4 linked regions of the Homo sapiens genome follow. The gene in region 3 interacts genetically with the main gene of each other region. Each region holds a gene or a part of one and is shown on either strand. Other genes may lie near its edges.

Region 1 (4,361 bases), on a different chromosome or scaffold from region 3:
CAATGAACAAATATTAACAAATCCTAACAGTTTAGTAAGTTGGCCCTTGAAATCTGTGGAGTATTGGTTTCAGGAACCCCCGCTTGGATGCCAAAATCTATGGATGCTCAAGTCTCTGATATGAGCCTTCACAGTATTTGCATATAAACTACCCGCATTCTCCCACATACTTTAAATCATCTCCAGATTACTTGTAACACCTAATAAAATGTAAATGCTATGGAAATAGTTGTTACCTTGTATTTTAAAATTTGTATTATTTTTTGTTGTTGTACTACTATTTTATTTTTCCTGAGTATTTTCAATCCCCAGTTGGTTCAATCTGTGGATACAGAGAGCCGACTGTTTTAAGATTGCAAAAATAAGTATTTTTGAAATCTTCACATCCATTGTTAAGGTATTAAAAAATAATCACTCTGCAAATACTTGGACTCAGTATCAAGCTGAGAAGCCTTCCCCTCTATCTTTTAAAGTGAAGCCAGCTAAAAGCTTTGTCAGCTCGCTCTTGAAAGCAATAATATGGTCACAAAACTTGCTGTGACCATTCTGTCTCTTTACAAATTTTGTAAGGCTGGCCTGCTTTTTTCTTCCTTCTAAATGACTGATTGAGGTGATGATTAATCCTCTATAGCATGTAAAACAAGGTTCTCAGGAGCTCCGAGTCCTCCACGGTAGAGGACAGGGAAGCTGTTGTGCTCAAGAATTAATCCATCCGAGGGAATCAAAGGCAGCCACAATGCAGTCATCAGCATGTTTTCACTATGCAAGCCCCACACTTCCTACTTAGAAAACACATAACCATTACCCCATTCTGTATTCTCACAAGGCTCCCTTTTATTTATTTGTGTTTGTTATTATATAGCTCATACCGACAAGTTTGTGCGATTCCACTGGTGTGCACACATCCATTGAGACAGGAAAAAAAGAAGTGTCTATTGCAAACTTGTTAAAAGGGAAAAGGGACTCCCACTGTTTTCTCCCTTTGGCCAGGCTTCTATTTAGAGGACAGAGCTTTAACTCTTTATGTCCCAGGAGAGAATGACTCCTTTGTGTAATTTTAAATTCTGCAATGGCTTCTTTACTGATGGAAAGTCATAAATGAGAGAAAAAATGTTATTCATAGATTGCTGCAATCCTAGAAGCTGATGTGTCTTCAGAGTTACACAGAGTACATTAGACAGCACATGGGAAAACTTTTACTTCATTCTCAACATGCTTAAGCTATTTTTACAAATCAGTTAAACTATGTCTACACAAAGCTTAGAAGCACTTTATTTGGGAGCAATCAGTATTTTTGTCAAAACTTTTGGACAGGTCTTTATTTTTGTTTTGGAAGGTTCAACACGAATTGTGCAAAATCTCTGGATATATTAGTTTAGCGATATGGTTGTTGAAGAAAATAATATGTTTTAAGCATTCACAACGTGACCTCCCCCTAGAGCTTTTGTTGATGATATGAATGATCTGGATTCAGTGAGTTCAGTGGTCATTTAATCCAGTCCTACCTCTCATACAGCAGACAGATAGATAGATGAACAGACAGACAGATAACTAGATGTCAAATAAACTCCTGCTCCCTAAAAGTACTTTTGCAATTTCAGTGAAGACATGGCTAAAACTGAGTGGCACCTTTATGAGACTGGTGCTTTTTAAATCAAAGAAGATAGAAATGTACCTTTAATCTACGGCACTGCACCAGAGCAGAACATAAGCTATTCCTTCCCCCATGACAGAGGCATGAAGCTGGGGAGGACACAGGCATTCACCTTGACACAGAATGGGTCCTGGGATGTCTACTTCTGGGATGAACTGGAACATGAAGAGTTAAGTGCCCACATGTTCTCTCACCAACCTCACTCCCTGCCACATTCCAAAGGGATAGGGCTCAGTGACAAGACAGCCCAGTACCCAAAATGAAGAGGGAGGGTTCTCGAATTAATTAACTGGAAATGAGTCTTGTCAATGTTTTGGAAAGGCAGAGGGGTGAAAAGAGATTGCTAGAATTAATCACAGTGAGAAACTACTTCAACCGCCTGCCAGAGTTCAGAAAACCCAATGAGAAGAGGAATATAAAGAATGATGCTGACTTGCCATCTGAAGGGACAAACACAGTCAAGCCAACATCCAAGTTTTGTCAAATAAGGGTTGTGCCCTCCAAGAGACTGGTTTATTATCTGCTGTCACAGTAAGTACAATATATTCTTTAAATGCACGTTCTATCCAGGGGGACAAAGGCAAACCACACAGTTACATTAATGCAAAGAAACAAGAGAACACTCAGTTACTTTCACTTTTAGCTTATACACGTTAAACTCTACTACCTAAAAGATTTGTATGTTCCCAAATTTGTACTTATAAATCTTCAAACACTTGCAATTTCACATACGGTAGAAGATGAAAAATCCATGAAACAGATTCCAAAAATTCAGGTATTTGGATGTAGTTCATTCACTAAAGAAGAAGAAAGAAACAAAATTGCAGATGTAGCAAATCTGTTCACAAGATTCATCAGACAAAAGGGGAAAAAACCCAGAACTTTGGTCAGTGGTGACAAATAACTTAGAGAAACCTAAAACAATTCATGCAATATTATTCAAGGAGTTCTGTTTTTTAAACTATAGTGAACATTAACTATCTTTTAAAGAAAATCTAATTCCTATGAGTAACTTACTTTTAGACCATGTATAACTTTTGATATGCCTTTTGTATTTCTCACCCAGAATGAGTTTGAAATTGTCCCTCTTTTAAGAAAATGGCAGCATAAAGCCGGAACAAAAAAACCGTTTGCAGCTATCTTTAGGGCTTTCCTCGGTAAACCACTATAGAGGGCACAATTCTCCCATCCATATTCTTACAAAGAGCCTCGTGCTTGAAGCAATGGGGAAGTGGAAACAGCTTTCTACAAACCAAAGGGAAGGACAGTTCCCTCGAGGGTACTTACTGGCTTAGGGGTGTCTCTAGTAGATTTCAGGATCAGCTTTTCGCCTTTCTTTTCAACTTCAAAACCCACTTTTTTAAGTAGGGATGCATCTGCCAGCCCCTGTTCCTCCATCTTTGCAATCAAATCTTGGTTTTGGCTGTTGTCTTCGGTAAGGTTTCGGATGGCATATATCACCCACTGGGTCAGAACTGGAGCCAGAGTGAAGGAATGTGACAACGTACTTTCCTGTTTGATAACTTCACATAAGAATTATCAGAAAAGGAGTAGAGGAGCACAGAAACACGGAACATCCAGTATCAATCCACAAGTTTTCTTGAGGATGCATTCTCTGAATATGCATCTCAAGTGCAAACACATTAAAAAGAGGCAACGCAGGCATATGCACATGTACATCCAGCATGTGTGTGTGATGTCCAGCCACGGGCACCCAGAGAGATTTACTCAGTATTTGTTGAATGAATGAACAAGGAAGCAAAGACTTAGAGTAGCTCAAACTGAAGTTTATGAACCCAAGAACACACACACAGGCAAACGTGTGTGCGTGCACACACACACATTCCTTTGTTGAATAATTATGTTACTGACTCACTAGGGAAAGAATAAGAAGAGCACTAAAGAATCAGTCACAAAGACGTCAGGTTAGAATCAGGAAAATCATCTTGTTTTAATGGGAGCCCAGTTAGAAATAAGAATTGTTTCCTAGGAGTCACTGTGGAATTTCCCGCATTCAGTATTCTAAAGATGAAGCTGGAAGGGCTTTGAAGGATTTGCTGTGTTTAGTTTGAATACTCAGGCTCCTGAAAGCATCGGGGCTCACTGTGCCCAAGTGTTCACCTGGCACGTTCCGCTTGGCAGGAGACCAGAGACAACCTACGAAGACTGGGATAGCATCGCCACATCACTGAGTAGGGCATTTGATTTAATCACCAAGAGCCATGTAAACCTCATGCAAACATTAAGCTATTATATGTAGTTCTATAAAGGACTGTACAAAAACTACTGCAGGGACCAGTCTTCAGTGGTTGGATCCAGGGACATATGTAAGAGACTGCCAAGAGAGGCTGTGTCCCTACTGGGCCTGGCACCCTGATCCAGGGAGAACAACAAAGAACCTAGGGTAGAACAAATACCTATCCAAAGAAAGAGACCTCCCTGCCCACGAGCAGATAAAGGCAGCAAGACAAACAAGTCCTGTCCCCTGATGATTATCAGATGCTTCCCACTCGGGCACTGCCAATGCCAGAACCAGGGAGTCAGTGTCCCCACAAGGTATCAAACCCTAGAGCTAAAGAGCCAAGTCTTCTGATCTTGTCCTGAACACCCCTGTGCAACGCTGTGGACCAGTTCTGAGACATTTCTAGCTCCCCCAACATGGCATGAGAACACAGAGAAAACTTCAACATTCACAAAGCTGGTGCTC
Region 2 (4,887 bases), on a different chromosome or scaffold from region 3:
AGTGCCATAAAAGGTCAGAAACATGTCTCTTCCTCCTCCAGGCTAGATGGAATGCTGAGGTCAGAGCTGGAGCTCAAGCAGCCACGGCAGAACAAGATACTTGTTGTTTAAGGTTTTCTTCAGCTTAATCTAGCCTTAACCGATATCCAGAGAACCCCCAAAAGGCCTGTCAGGGATTCCAACAAATAGAAGGAGAACAAAAAAAAAGGGAAATTCCCAGAGTGAGATCCTTAACAGGAGTGACAGCAAGCCTAATGTGAAACAGAATGAGGACTCTGGCAGCATCTCAAGGCCCCTGCCTCACTCAGGGATGGCATCTGGTCAGTGTCAGAAAACAACCCCATCCCCCAGCATTCCTCAAACACATGAGGTCAAATGAGGTGAAGAATCAGGACTTCAAGAAGATTCCCTACAGTGTGGACCAAGTATGACTCAGGCCGAGGTGCTCATCAGTAGAGCACGTAAATCCTCCAGAGGGGAGCCATGTTTTCCACAAGAAACAAGACACAAGACTGACTTGACCTAACAAGTCTCAATACACAAAAAAGGATTTAAATCATACAAAATATGTTCTCCAACCACAATGTGACTAAATTAGAAATCAACAAAAAGAAACCTGGGTAATCCCAGATATTTGGAAATTAAACGGCTTACTTCAAAATAGCCCATGGTTCAAAAAATAAAAATAAAACACCCACCTCATGGTACAGGTGGGAGGCTCAGAAGGGAAGACAAATATTTAAGTGAGCTGCATAATGAAACTCTGTAAGGCATTGGGTCTGGAATGTGCCTGCAGCTTGGGAAAGAGTAGAGGCGGCTCTGGAAGGGGCCCCTGCAGAGCTTAAAAACCTCAATGGAGGAATTCTAGAGCCCTGAGGTCCCACAAGTCAACGAGAGGAGGACAAAAAAAAATCAGTAGAAATGTGTGCTCTGGTACAGAGAAAAAAGAAATGACTAATTTCTGAGTGGTTACAGAAAAAAACAGAGCGACAATTAAAAATAATAAACAGTGGGTGGGTGAGTGCAGGGAGTGAGCCATCTTCTCTCAGCTCTTCCAGGCTTGGAGACCTCACTCCTGATCTGTTCCACATTAGCCTGGCCCATCGTCAGGGTGACAGAGACAACTTGCTGTGTGCAGCTCCCTTGCTGGGTGTAGCAGGTGAGATCTCACCTAAATTCTCACCCAAACCTGTGAGGGCTGATTTCCTGTTTATAGGAGAGTAAGGGCTCTGAGGGCTTACAGCACTTGCCAGGCTGTGGAGCTGAAACTTGAACCCAGGCGGTCTGGCTCTAAACAACTGCCAGCCATCCCACCACAATGTGCCGCCTGTGGCAAGGCACCCAAGCCAGGCACTCTCTCATTCCCTGGCCTCGCACAGACTGCTTCCTCTGCCTGGAACACTCTCCCTGCCCATTTCACCTGGCCAACTCTTTCAGCCCATGGCTCAGATGCTGCCACCTCCTGTAAAAGGCCTAGATGCTCTCACCTGTCATGCTGCGCAGCCCAGGCTCACACCCTCTATCTCAACCCCATCGCTCCACACTGCAGGAGCATGTCCATGCTCCACAGAGACAGGACTTCCCTGAGGAACAGCGCCTCAGCAACCCCAGACAAGGGCAGCACCTGGCAGGGTGGGAACTCCAGAGCTTGTGAAAACCACAGGGAATCAATCAGCAGGAGGACCTCAAAAGGCAAACAAGACAGAGACCCTGGAGCTCTGATGGGCAGAGGAGACATGGAGTGAAAGATAGGGAAGGAAGCTGTGTTGAGGCTACCTCTGAGGCTTCTGCACACCTGCAGGCAACACTAGCCCCCAGTCAAGCCCATCCTCAGCCCTGGCTCAGGAACAGGTGTGGGTGGGATGGGCCTGCTCCTTCTAGGCCTCACCTGTGCTGGAGATGCAGCTGCTTCCTCACTGTCTGATTCCTCCTCACTGCTCTCAGAGTCTTCCTGCTTTTCAGCTTTCACCTGGGTGACTGTAGGCCCCGTCTTCCCAGGGAGTACTGGAGCAGTCCCTTGCCCCAAGGACCCCTTGACAGGCACTGAGGCTGCTTTCACCTGGAGGCCTTTCCCCACAGACTTTGCCTGGGATGACAAGGGGAAGAGAGGTGTCTCCAGGAGTCCAAAGGACCACGTAGGGGCGGCCCTGAGGCCCGCCCAGAAAACACAGGCCTCACCTGTCCCACGGTTACTGCAAGACCTGTCTTCTCTTCCTCACTATCTGATTCCTCACTGCTTGAAGAATCCTCTGCTGGTCTCTGGGTGCCCCCAGCCACAGCTGGGGATGAGCCTGCTGGAGAAGTCGCAGTTCCTGCTTTCCGGGGGGCTTGGGTGCCCACTCGCACAGGGGCGACCTTGGCAGATGCAGTGGTATTGGTTTTCTTTGGGCAGGCCTTGGTCTGAGGAATTTTCAGAGCTGGTTTTGCCTGAGGGGACACCAAAGAAAGGCTGGAGAAGGTTCCTGAACTCAGAGTCCCCCATCTGTTCTGCCCCACCAGCCAAAACCCATGCTCTGCCTGAGGGAGCACAGCTCCCCGGGGGTGCTGACTGTGGTGTGGCAGATCAGGCCATGTAGCAGCCTCCTTCCCCAGGCCTCACCTGAGCTGCAGTCATGGCTGCTGGTGCCTCCTCACTGTCCGCACTGTCCGATGACTCCTCGCTGCTCTCCGAGTTGTCCATGGGCTTTTCAGCCTTGACCTGGACGGCTACAGGCCCTGCCTTCTGAGGGGGCCCCTTGGCAGGACTGGAGGTGGGTTTGGCCTGGAGGATGTTCCCCAAGGACTTTTCCTGGAGTGAGATACACAGGATCGGGAGAGGGAGCCCAGGGTAGGTGTGTGCAGACATTAAGAAACTAAGATTGTAGACAGAGTCCCAGTGTGAGGTTGGGAGGCCACAGGCAGCTCCACTCTGAGTGGGGGGGAAAAAGAAAGAGCCTTACAGGAAGGGGCCTCACCTGAGCCGGGGCCACAGCTGTGGGCACCTCTCCATCACTGCTGTCTGATGACTCCTCACTACTGCTCTCTGAGTCCTCCTCCCACTTCCCCACCTGGGCTGAGGGGGTTGCAGGCCCCACCTTCCCGGGTGGCACTGGGCCGGCGCCTTTCCCCAAGGGCCCCATGCCCATGGTAGAGGCAGGTTTCACCTGGGGGCTTTTCCCCAAGGGCTTCACCTGGGAGACACAAAGGACAAGATTAGGGAGGGAGTCCAGAAGGAGAATGTGAGTGAGGGGAGGAGAGCAAACGAAGCCAGCCGCACAGGGCTCTAGGTTCAGAGAGGAAAAGTCAAAACCACAGGAGGTCTTTTGAGGCAGGGCACAGGCCATGCAGGGCGGCTTCCAGCCTCACCTGAGCTGCATTCATGGCTGCCAGTGCCTCTCTGTCACTGTCTGACTCCTCGCTGCTGCTTCTTGAGTCCTCCTCCTGCTTCCCCACCTGGACCTGGGCGGCTGCAGGCCCTGTTTTCCTAGGAGGTGCTGGGGCAGCCCCTTTCCTGGGGGACTCCTTGGCAGGGGCCGAGGCGGCTCTGACCTGGGGGGCCTTCCCTGAAGGCTTCGCCTGGAGTGAGAAACAGGATGAGGGGAGAGCCCAGAGGGTGGACGTGTGGAGACAGGAGCTGGATGTGGCAAAGGTGGCCACACCCATGCAGGTGCTGGGGTTTAGGCATGGGGCTACTCTCCACCCCTCCCCTCTGCCTCACCTGAGCAGGCGCCTCCTCCTCACTGTCCGATTCCTCGCTGCTGCTCTGCGAGTCCTCCTCCCGCTTCCCCGCCTGGGCCTTGGCAACTGCAGGCCCTGTCTTCCCAGGGGGCGCTGGGGCAGCTCCTTTCCTGGGGGACTCCTTGGCAGGGGCTGAGGCAGCTCCGACCTGAGAGGTTTTTCCTGAGGCCTTCGCCTGGAGAAACAAGACAAGGGGAGACAGCCCAGAGGATGGACGTGTGAGGAGACACAGGACACCACGTACAGAAGACCAGATAGGGCAAATGATGCCACACAGTGAGAGGGGAGTAAGGGGCTGGGGTCTGAGGCACGCCCGGGGCTCTGGCCCAGAGTGGGAGAACAAGTCCTGAGAAGGCCTTCTGGGGACGGGCCTGGCTGCATGGAGTCTCCCTCCTCAGGCCTCACCTGAAGCAGGGCCTTGGCAGCTGGCGTCTCCTCCTCACTGTCAGATGACTCCTCGCTGCTGCTCTCTGAGTCCTCCTCTGGCTTCCCTGCCTTGGTCTGGGAGGCTACAGCCCCTGCCTTCCCAGGGGGTGCTGGGGTAGCCCCTTTCCCAGGGGTCCCCTTGGCAGGGGCTGAGGCAGCTCTGACCTGGAGAATTTTTTCAGAGGCCTTTACCTGGTGAAAAAGAAAGGGCAGCTTGCTCTCCTGCTTGTGAAAACTCTCTGGTGATGCCTTTAGGATAAAGTCCAGAGGCCTTAATGAGGCTCCTAAGACCTCCCCTGCTTCCCTCCCCACTCCCCACCTTGACTGATACTTTGGCCACACTGGCCTCCTGGTTTCTCAAAAATCGATCAGCTTCACACACTCTCACTCCTGGAGCCTCCATGCCCCCTGTTCCATTTCACTTAGCCACTGCCTCCTCTGTCTCTGGCTCCCTAAGAGACACCACTTCCTTAACATGGTTCCCCCTGGTGCCCCAGCACACTGGGTAGTTAGAGCCTGTCCTCTGCTGGGCTCCCACTGGCCAGAGAGCTCTGGAGGCACAGGCACTGGCTTATCGGGAGCATCATCAGACTGGGCTGTGGGGAGGGGGTGTGCAAAGGCCCAGGGAAGGGAAGGAATGAAGAGGCAGTCTGAAAGTGGGGAAGGGACTGAGGGAGGCCCTCACTGGACTTTCTGCACATGGACAGCAGCAGGACCCCTGGAAGCCCACCCTCAGCCTCATGG
Region 3 (4,900 bases):
GTCAGTCACGTGATAATAACTATAGCTTGGGAGGGTGGCACATGAACTATTTGGGAAGGTCAAAGTCAGTTCAGCTCAAGACTATGAGAACCAGAAGCCCCTTTGTCCCAAGGGGGCTGGCAGCTGCAGTTTTACTGAGTCATGTTTTTAAGTTTCTCTATATTGGCCACTTTGTTATGACATATCCTGACATACCTGCTGTCCAGTTTCTTGCACTGAGCATTGGCCATGCAAGCAGATTTCTCTACTAGCTCTAAGTTCAACACTTCTACTTTTCCTTCATCACAGTCACTTTCACCGTATCTTTAGTCGATGGACAGATGACAAAGATATGACAAATATATAAACAATATATATAATGAAGTATTAGGAGTACACCCAACAGGAGAGACCAGAAGAGGCAGGACTAGATGAGGGCGAGACCTGCTCCTCTCAGCCCCTGCTCATTTCCAGGCCAACAATGAACAGATGGTGGAAAGAATTACACAGCACTCCACACAGACATAGATACTTATTTATTTGCATATTTAAAGTTTACACACATGCTATGACTCCAATGTTTTAAAAAAATAAGCCCTTAACAGCTCTGAGACACATGGCCTCTTCTGTATCCCAAGCAAATCCCTAAATGGAGGTAGAGCACGTGTTCCTATTTTTCACACTCTCATATGGGAGATAAGTGGTTAAGGAGGACTAGAAACCCAATCAGGCCTACCGGGGTGCCGGACAGACACACAGCATTCCTAAAGGAATGCCACCAGAGAAAAAATACAAGTCTGTACATATATCTTTATTTTCATACTTAAAAAGAATCACATACTCATTCCAACAGCTTTACCAGGCTTCGCCAACCCAATAAGTTACACACTCACTCAGGTACTAGGAAGGTTATTGCACAGCTCCTTAACTGATCGGGGTCAGGGCAGAGTGGTCACTTTCCCCACAGCCAGGCTCTGGATTTGCCTCCTGTGAAGACACCATGCCTAGCACAGGCTGACGGGGCGGCTGCAGTCGAACCTTGCCTCCAGATTATGAACCAGTATAAGTAGCACAATTCTCGTGGCTACTTTCACTTCAGAGTGTCATGTTTATTGATGTGGAGCTTTCTGAATAGGGAGGTTAAGGCACACCTGCTGAGTAAAACAAATATTTCTTGTGTAGCGTTCTAGATTGAGGGCAGCAGTCAATGGTAAAATAAACTTCAGTAGCATGTTCCTGTCAGGTTATATGGCAGCCCTGGCTCAAGGATTTCTCCCCCTGCACGATTCCTAAGACTGTTTGCTAGCTGATTCTTTGTTTTGGCAATTTGATGGTTTTGATGAATTTGCTGTGATCCAGGGGTGTTCAAGTACTTCTCTGAGCATTGGCCTCTGGCTGGGATTATGCTTCAACAGTCTTGAAATGAGGTCCCTGGCTCCCTCTGTTACAAAGTCAGGGAATGTGAATTCAACCTGGAGTACAACAAATGATAAAATATCACAAAACACAGGTTAGAGAGATCAAATAGTATAGATGTTCGGATCTTGGCCTGCAGTTCAGGCTGATAAGGAAAGAATTCCAGCAGATGTGCTGGGTCCTTTTCAGTTGCGTCTTACCCGTGATATTCTTTTGTAGGTCTCTTGGTATGTGTTTGCCTCAAAAGGAGGCTTCCCAACTAAAAATTCATAGCAAAGAACTCCAAGGCTCCAGAGATCCACCTTCTCATCATGCATCCGACCTTCAATCATTTCAGGGGGCAGGTAGTCCAGGGTGCCACAGAGAGTGGTCCTCCTGAAAACGGAGGGAGGCTCAGGTTGATGTGCTTCTCGTTTTATGATCACAACAGCTGCTAACAATCATTAAAGAGTCCACTAACACTGAGGTCTTCCCCTGGGCCAGATCCTGTGCCCTAGGAAGTAGCTACTATTATAAATTCCCATAGGAAACAGATGAAGCGAGGTGTGTAAGGTCACACAGCTAGCCATCAGGCTTAACCCCAAATCTGTCCAACTCCAGAACCTCCCTGAATAATCTAGAATGTAAGAAACTGAATGTATCACTACCATATAAAAGCTGCCATGCAAAGTTCTCTGTAAATACGATTTGGATTCTACATCTGCATGTGGATATTACAGATATGCTAAGAATCTTAAAAGCCTGGTCGCAATGACAATACACTAGAAACTGTCCCACTGTAACAGCACTGGGGTGGAGATGTAGACACATGCTGCCTTGTGATAGATACTTGGTACGAGTGATGCTGAAATTTTGAGGGTGGCCTATGAAGTACTCTTGCCAAAAATATTTAACCTGGCTGGGTGCAGTGGCTCATGCCTGTAATGCCAGCACTTTGGGAGGCCGAGGGAGGCGGATCACGAGGTCAGGAGATCGAGACCATCCTGGCTAACATGGTGAAACGCCGTATCTACTAAAAATACAAAAAATTAGCCGGGTGTGGTGGTGTGCGCCTGTAGTCCTAGCTACTCAGGAGGCTGAGGCAGAAGAATGGCGTGAACCCGGGAGGCGAGCTTGTAGTGAGCCAAGATCGCACCACTGCACTCCAGCCTGGGTGACAGAGCGAGACTCTGTCTCAAAAAAAAAAAAAAATTTTCTTAACCTGAATCTCTTCAGGACCTGAGACCTACATTCCAGTTTTCAGCAAATACGGGGAATAAAGGTCCAAGTTAAGTGGCAACACAATCAGAAAAGTCCTCTTTAAAGTGGGAGACTGGTCTGGCTTTAGACCACAGAGACAATCCAACCACAGAGACAGTCCAACCACAGAGACAGTCCAACCACAGAGACAATCCAACCACATAGACAGTCCAATACAAAGCATGGGCTTTGGTTGAGTTCTGATTTTACAAACCAGCTATAAGATGTCATGGACAATAGGAGAAATCTGAATGTGGACTAAATATTAGATACTGACAATGCTGTTAATTTTCTTAGGAGTGATCATGGTTCTAGTTATATAGGAGAATATCCTTATTTAGGAAATGCATTCTATTATAGTGCTTAAGGTTGAAGCATCATGATGTTTGCAACGTATTTTCAAGTGTTCACTAAAAAAGCAGATGCAGCCCTTCTGACTAAATGGGAAAAACTGCTGAACGTAGGCACTGTATAGACAGGTATGCCATCAACTACCAATTCCGCATTTTTATCGGTTTAGGTTTTTTTAACGAAGGTTGGAAAAAAGCTGGGAACAGCAGACAGCAAGCCAGAACAGTCTGTGTGGGTTCGTGTTGCTTTGTTATCAGCTGCTCTTCACCATGGAGGCTTACGTGGTCACAGCCCTGGTGCTGTGTTCAGCCAGGCCTGGCACCCACTGAGCACACAAACAGTCACTCACCACTGAATTGTGACGTAGGATTAAGAAGCTACCACTCTGGTCATCTAACCCCTCCATCAGCACCGACGGACTGAATCGGGGGTTCTCAAACTGAGGCAATAACCAGGAAATGATGATGATTAACATCTGGGATTTGGAGTGAAGTGACTATCGGTTATGTAAGTAATCTTTTCAAAAAGCAAGAAGCCATCTTTTCTATCACAATTCAACCGGTTAAGATACAGTTTAACTCTGCGATTCCATGAAGCCTGTAAGTCTTTATTCTGGTTTGTCTCACCAGATAACAGCTCCCACTAATGACAACCAGTTTAAAAAAAAAAAAAAAAAAAAAGACTGCAATAGCAGATTCAGTGCATTGCTGGAACAATTAGAAGTGCTCTGTAACAAAAGCAAAGGTTTTCTCCCTCATATTCTATTTTAGGCTATACTTTTTTTTTAACTAGCTTGATTTTTAAGTCATTTGGCTATAATTTGAGTCCTCCTCCAAAGTTGACAAAACTTCATCGGTAGATATATGTTTTAAAATGCCCCACTTCATGTGAAGTTTCAAAGCTTATTTAAACTCAAATTTAAAACAGTAAAGATATTGTAGTTCACTTGGAAAGCTAAGATTTGAATTGTTTTGAGACTGACATCTCTGCTTCAGCTGTGACAGGGGATAAGAAAGGACTATCCCTACTATTGACAGAGGCAGACTGAAGAGAATCTCTCACCACTGCCCTCAAAGCACCACCAAACTAATTTAGTGTTTCAAGTTCCCTGATATGGCCTGCACTCTGAGCTCTAGATCTTTGTCAGTGCTGTCCTCTGAACCATCTCCCCATCTCCTCATCCAGGAAGCAGCAGAGGTGAAGAGTTCCTCCCACTCAACATGTGGGCACTTCACCTCTGTCATATACGTGTCCTATCTGTTGACTCATTCATCCCTTCATTAGCCTCTAAGGACATTAAGCATCTTCAACCCTAGGCCTAGAACACTGCTAATAGCCCCAAATCTCCACAGAATAACACTTTCTTGCAAACCCTAGTTTATTATTAAGCCTAAATTACTCCAAAGTACTTCTGGGTTAGCCACCTACCCCTCTTACAGCACAAAATCTACACTGAAATATTTTACATTTAGCTCACGGTTAGCTCCCAGGGCTTTGGTAAACCAAACAACTTCCACCTCTAAAGTTACATACCTGGAAGATGGAGCATGTACTGACCACCCAAAATCTGCAATTTTAAGCTCTCCAGCTGATCCAAGAAGTAAGTTCTCTGGCTTAATGTCTCTATGAATAACTCTCTTCGAATGACAGTAAGACAGGGCATTTGCCAATTCTGTTATATACTGTTAAAACAATATTGAAAGCCTATGTTTTAGATTTTATATAACACAAGTTAATATTAGACATCTCTTCCGAAAGGAACACAACATAGATTTAACATGGTTTGCAGGTTTTGGCCAGGCACAGTGGCTCACACCTATAATCCCAACACTTTGGGGGACTGAGGTGGGAGGATCACTTGAGCCCAGGGGTTCAAGACCAGCCTGGGAAACATAGCAAGACTCCATCTCTACAA
Region 4 (4,887 bases), on a different chromosome or scaffold from region 3:
TGAGTGTTAAGTGGCAATAGGAGAGAGACTAAAACTTTCTTCCTTTGTCAGCATATCAGGTGATTCCTACAGCTTTGTAAGATGCAAGGGCAATACAACAACAGCATAAGGTATCACATAGTTCCAAAAGGAGACACATTTGCAAATGGACTTAACACTGTGGTATCTCTAGTTCAATACAACCTGGTATTCTTACCATCAACACTTGCCATATGGAAAAAGGGGGATAGGCATTTTGCTCTATAGCACTTACTATTGAAGTTTATTCAAAATACAAAGTAATGCAGCCATTTTACTGAAACTTCCAAGTAGAAAAGTTAAACATTGAAGAGCTTTATATTTTAATCATAACTTACCTCTTCAGTAATCGAATCTAACGATGAAGTAGCTTCATCATAGAGTATGACTGGGGGGTCCTTCAAAATGGCTCTTGCAATTGCTACTCTTTGCTTTTCTCCTCCTGGTAAAGGAAAATTTTACTTTAAGGAAGCATAGTGCATGCATATTTTATGTTTTTAGTGTTTCCATTGATTACAACCACCAAGTAATACACTGAACATTTCCTTATTCTCCTGATCACAGTTCATTTTACTGAGTTGTAGAGTTGAAGTTCATATACAATATCTTTTGACAAATTATATTCCCTGAAACATGAATGCACTACTGAATTCTGACTTCATAGCAGGTGGGAAGAATGAGAATGAGGCAGTAAGGTAACAACTTTGATTCTACTATTATTCTTCTACCAGAAGCATGCTCATTATATGTTACTTTATATTACAGATAATTCTCAATGAACTGCAATCTCAGAAAAATTTCAATGACAGAATTGACAATGCCAAAAAAATCAATATCTGAAACCTGAAACTTGAAGACATTAAACTATGAATAACTGAATTCGTCTCTTAAGATAAAAAAGTAGCATTCAGCCAGTATTCTCAAGGATTGTTTTTTGATAGAAAGCTATTATTTTCACAGCATTCTTCAAAGTTAAAGGCATACACTAGATATCTTTTCCTTTATTCAGGTATTTATTATAGGTCTCTAGCATATCAAATTTTTAAAATAGAAAGGATATAGGCCCAGAAAAGTTAAGTGATTTGCTCAAGGTCACCGAGCAAGAATCTGGACTAGACCCATTTCAGTCCAATGCTCTTCTTATCACAATGTGTAAGCCCACATTTATTCCTAAATACAAGAATAAATATTTAGAAAGTATTTCTTAAATAAACAGTGAAAATATGTAGTGAAATGTATAGAAACCTTTATTACTGAGACTACTGTAGGTCTAAGGTCATCAATCTTATATAGAACTATAGTTGGAAGTACAGAAGATGGTACTCTGCTGACTATGTCCCTTTTGGCTTCTTTTCTTGTCTATTATACATTACCAATATCTGAAAAACATATTTTTCAGCTTATTAGGAAATAAGCTCTATCCATTACCTGGTACATTAAATATTTTTATTTTTACTTATTCTACAATTATTATCTTTGGCCTATAAAGGGGTTCCTTATTTTTAATATTAGTAAGTTTATATTTATGCTAGCCATACGCTTCCCCACCTCACAGGATCAAAATTCTCCTAACAAGGCAGGTACCATAAGTACTATCTTCCCGCCTACCTATCAGCCCAGTAGCAGAAAGTTCCTCAAAGAAGTAGATATTCAGAGGAAGGACTAGTTTTGAAGTGCCTCTCAAATTTCAAGTGGAAACCAACTCAGTTGTAATTCTATTCAACGGTATTTTGGAACTTGGAGAAGAAATGTCTGTTTATTCTCTAACATAATTATTAGCATAGATGATAAATAATAAATTGCTCATTTTGAGAGGTTTGGTTATAAGGAAATGAGAAATAGGTAAGAATAAAATTTCTTTAGCTATTCCTATCCCTCAAAGGCATGCAGAAAGGAAAAATAAGATTAGAAAATGGAACACAGCATAGCTGGCTGAGGCAAAGTCATGCATTAAGAGGGCTAGTTCATATTACGTGATAAATTAGGGATCGCCAGAATTAGCCAAACGGACACATAATTTGGGGGTGGGCCAGATAACTGGAAATTACTCCTATTAAAAGCAGTAATAAAGTGTAAATGTGGACTGGAATGATACTGGCATCTTATACTACCAGGTAATGACCCAATCAACTTAACTTGGAAATAATCTTTGCTTAAAATTTTCTAAACCTAGCCCAAAACTTTCTAACAGATTGCCAATTCCTGAATAACAGGCCTGTTTATGCTTCATTTTTTTAACTTTCAAATCATTTAGCATAGTAGCTTGCACATAGTGTGTATCTAATAAATGAAGCCAGTTTATAATGAAGAGGAATGTGGATTCGTTAAAATTCATATAGAGTATTTCTCATTCTATTTTTGCCTTACCTCTATCTATAATCGATACATTTCCTGCCCAAACTAAACTAGACATTGCTATACTTTTGAATTCAAATAATTTGGGGGTAAAGAAACATTTTTCTGTGTCCTCCAAAAAAAAAATCAGTCATTTTAGGGTAATTCATTCTTAAACCTAGCAATCTCATAATTAAACATTTAACAAGAAATGTATAAGCCTCAAAATATCCTTGGCCACAGAACAAAGGACATGAAAATGAATCTGGCTGTAAGGAAAGTATAGCAGTTAACAGGATCAAATATAAAGAGGTCTCAAGTACTGAAAACATCTTCTAATGATCTAGGAAGTTATGATGAGAGATATACACTATTCGTTATCAAATTACTTCTCCCTAACCTTACTACTTTCCCAGGTAAAGAACGATCTTGTTTTTCCTTTATCATGAAGATTGTAGATAACAAGTTAGTAATGATCTGAGCATATTTTGATAACTTACTTAATATCAAACACCTACAGTGTTTGCAGCTGCAAGTGAAAAAAAAAAGACTTGCATGACTTGAGAATAGTTACTAATATGTTGAATTGGTTATAGTGAGGGCTAGGAGATTAGTAACCCAATCAAATGTGACTCAACGAGCACTACATTTGAAGTCTCTCATTACATTTTCTAAAAAATGGCTCTGACAAATTAGAGTTTGAAAGAAGTATACAAGAAGGGGGCAGGTCTAAAATCTCTGATCACCTGAAAGCTTGAGTCCTCGTTCCCCTACTTGGGTGTCATATCCATGTGGCATTCGAAGAATTGCATCATGAAGTCCAGCTAATTTTGCCACTGCATACACTTCCTCAGGTGAAGCACTGATGTTTCCATATAAGAGGTTGTAATAAATAGTATTATGGAAGAGGACAGCATCCTGAAGCAGATATACTGAATGAATATATATCTATATCTATATATCTCTCTCTATTTATGTTCATTATTAAAAATTCAAATAGTAAAGAGACAAAGGCATAAAGGGTAAAACATGACAGTCCCTTTCATCATCCCTCATCTGCAAAATCCCATTCCCTTCCCAGGGGTAGTCATCATAAACAATTTAGTGTGCATCATTCCAGACTTCTTCCTGTGAATTTATATACCTAAACATATGTTTCTTTCCCCTAACACAAGTATGGTCATTCTACACATATTATTTTGCAATTGCTTTTTTCAGTTAACATATCATAGAGATTGTCCATGTCAATAACAGAAAACTAACTCATTCTTTTTAACAGTTGTATATTCCATACTATGGAAATGTCATAATTTATTTATACATTCTCCTACTGATGGACATTAATGTGATTTCCAAGTTTATGCTACTACAATGTTGGAATAAAACATTATGTATATGACTTTGTACAACTGTGTGTTTCTGTAAGAATTCCTAGAAGTAGACTGATGAGTTTAAAGGTAAGCATACTTTTATCCTTTGATATTATTGCCCAAATGTCTTCTAAATATGGCCCTACCAGCAACCAATAATGTATAAGTACACGCTAACCAATAGCATATGAGGGTGCCAGTTCCTCATATACTCAGAAACCCTGGATATTAATAATTTTTAGGTGTTGCTATTCTTAGGGGAAAAATGTGTTTTTTGTTTAAATTAGCATTTCCCTAATTACTAACGAGGTTTGAATATGTTTTCCTATGTTTCTAAGAAGCTTTGACATTGATATTAAAACAGAAAACAAATAATTTATGCAATATATATATTTTTGGAGAAAGTTCACTTCAAGCATTCATTTGATATTTCAACTTATTCTCACATGGCACACTAAAGCTAATTTACTTCAAGTGAGCATCCATCTCCCATTTTTCTTTCAATCTCTAAACGGTTGGAAGGCTATGGTTAGGTGAAATAAAATGACTCCATTTGTTCACATTAACCAGGATACCCATCTTCTTTAACATCATAATCAGACCAAAAATTTCATATATTGCTTTAAATAGTATTTAAATCATTTATATACCTATTAATAAAATTTCTCATATTGAGACAATACTTAAACTCAATAAGCTCATTGTATAAACAGAAACTGCTTATTTTAAAATAATTTATATTTAGGAAAAAGCTAAATGTGCTAGATGGAAATTTTGAAAATATAAAAACTAATATAAAATAAATACTGATTTTTTTGGTGTAATTTCTGCTAAATGGGTAGATTTTAGCTGCTCTAGTCACAAAAACATGGGTAACTGTGAGATGATGGACATGTTAATTTGCTTCTCTACAGTAATATAATTATCTATATGTATCTCATAACATCATGTTAGATACCTTAAATATATACAATAATGTTTAATAAATTAAACTTTAAATAATCCATATTCCCATCATGTAGCAAGATCTAATATTACATTGATATTTTCTATCTTTTTTCTCTACTGCAATGTATTCATTTAATATAATAAAATCAGGATATTATATTTTGCTTGCTATCCTCCTTTTTAATACTTTGTATTTGCATATTTTTCATGACAATAT

What was found. Genes that interact genetically often act in the same process or in processes that back each other up.
Region 1: changes in AURKA (region 3) and ATXN10 together harm fitness more than expected from each alone (negative genetic interaction), as found in Homo sapiens cells (one large-scale study listed by BioGRID).
Region 2: changes in AURKA (region 3) and TCOF1 together harm fitness more than expected from each alone (negative genetic interaction), as found in Homo sapiens cells (one large-scale study listed by BioGRID).
Region 4: changes in AURKA (region 3) and ABCB7 together harm fitness less than expected from each alone (positive genetic interaction), as found in Homo sapiens cells (one large-scale study listed by BioGRID).

The regions. Positions count from the first base shown.
Region 1 is NC_000022.11:45,841,759-45,846,119, reverse strand, and holds the end of ATXN10 (ataxin-10), read right to left. Parts: intron 3,130-4,361; coding exon 2,942-3,129; intron 2,452-2,941; coding exon 2,449-2,451; 3' UTR 813-2,448; downstream 1-812. UniProt on the Homo sapiens protein: May play a role in the regulation of cytokinesis. May play a role in signaling by stimulating protein glycosylation. Induces neuritogenesis by activating the Ras-MAP kinase pathway and is necessary for the survival of cerebellar neurons.
Region 2 is NC_000005.10:150,373,622-150,378,508, reverse strand, and holds part of TCOF1 (treacle protein), read right to left. Parts: intron 4,336-4,887; coding exon 4,123-4,335; intron 3,893-4,122; coding exon 3,698-3,892; intron 3,556-3,697; coding exon 3,346-3,555; intron 3,171-3,345; coding exon 2,955-3,170; intron 2,789-2,954; coding exon 2,600-2,788; intron 2,428-2,599; coding exon 2,179-2,427; intron 2,087-2,178; coding exon 1,889-2,086; intron 1-1,888.
Region 3 is NC_000020.11:56,368,890-56,373,789, forward strand, and holds the end of AURKA (aurora kinase A), read right to left. Parts: intron 4,668-4,900; coding exon 4,519-4,667; intron 1,771-4,518; coding exon 1,596-1,770; intron 1,452-1,595; coding exon 1,269-1,451; 3' UTR 501-1,268; downstream 1-500. UniProt on the Homo sapiens protein: Mitotic serine/threonine kinase that contributes to the regulation of cell cycle progression.
Region 4 is NC_000023.11:75,061,972-75,066,858, forward strand, and holds part of ABCB7 (iron-sulfur clusters transporter ABCB7, mitochondrial), read right to left. Parts: intron 3,271-4,887; coding exon 3,099-3,270; intron 461-3,098; coding exon 357-460; intron 1-356. UniProt on the Homo sapiens protein: Exports glutathione-coordinated iron-sulfur clusters such as [2Fe-2S]-(GS)4 cluster from the mitochondria to the cytosol in an ATP-dependent manner allowing the assembly of the cytosolic iron-sulfur (Fe/S) cluster-containing proteins and participates in iron homeostasis.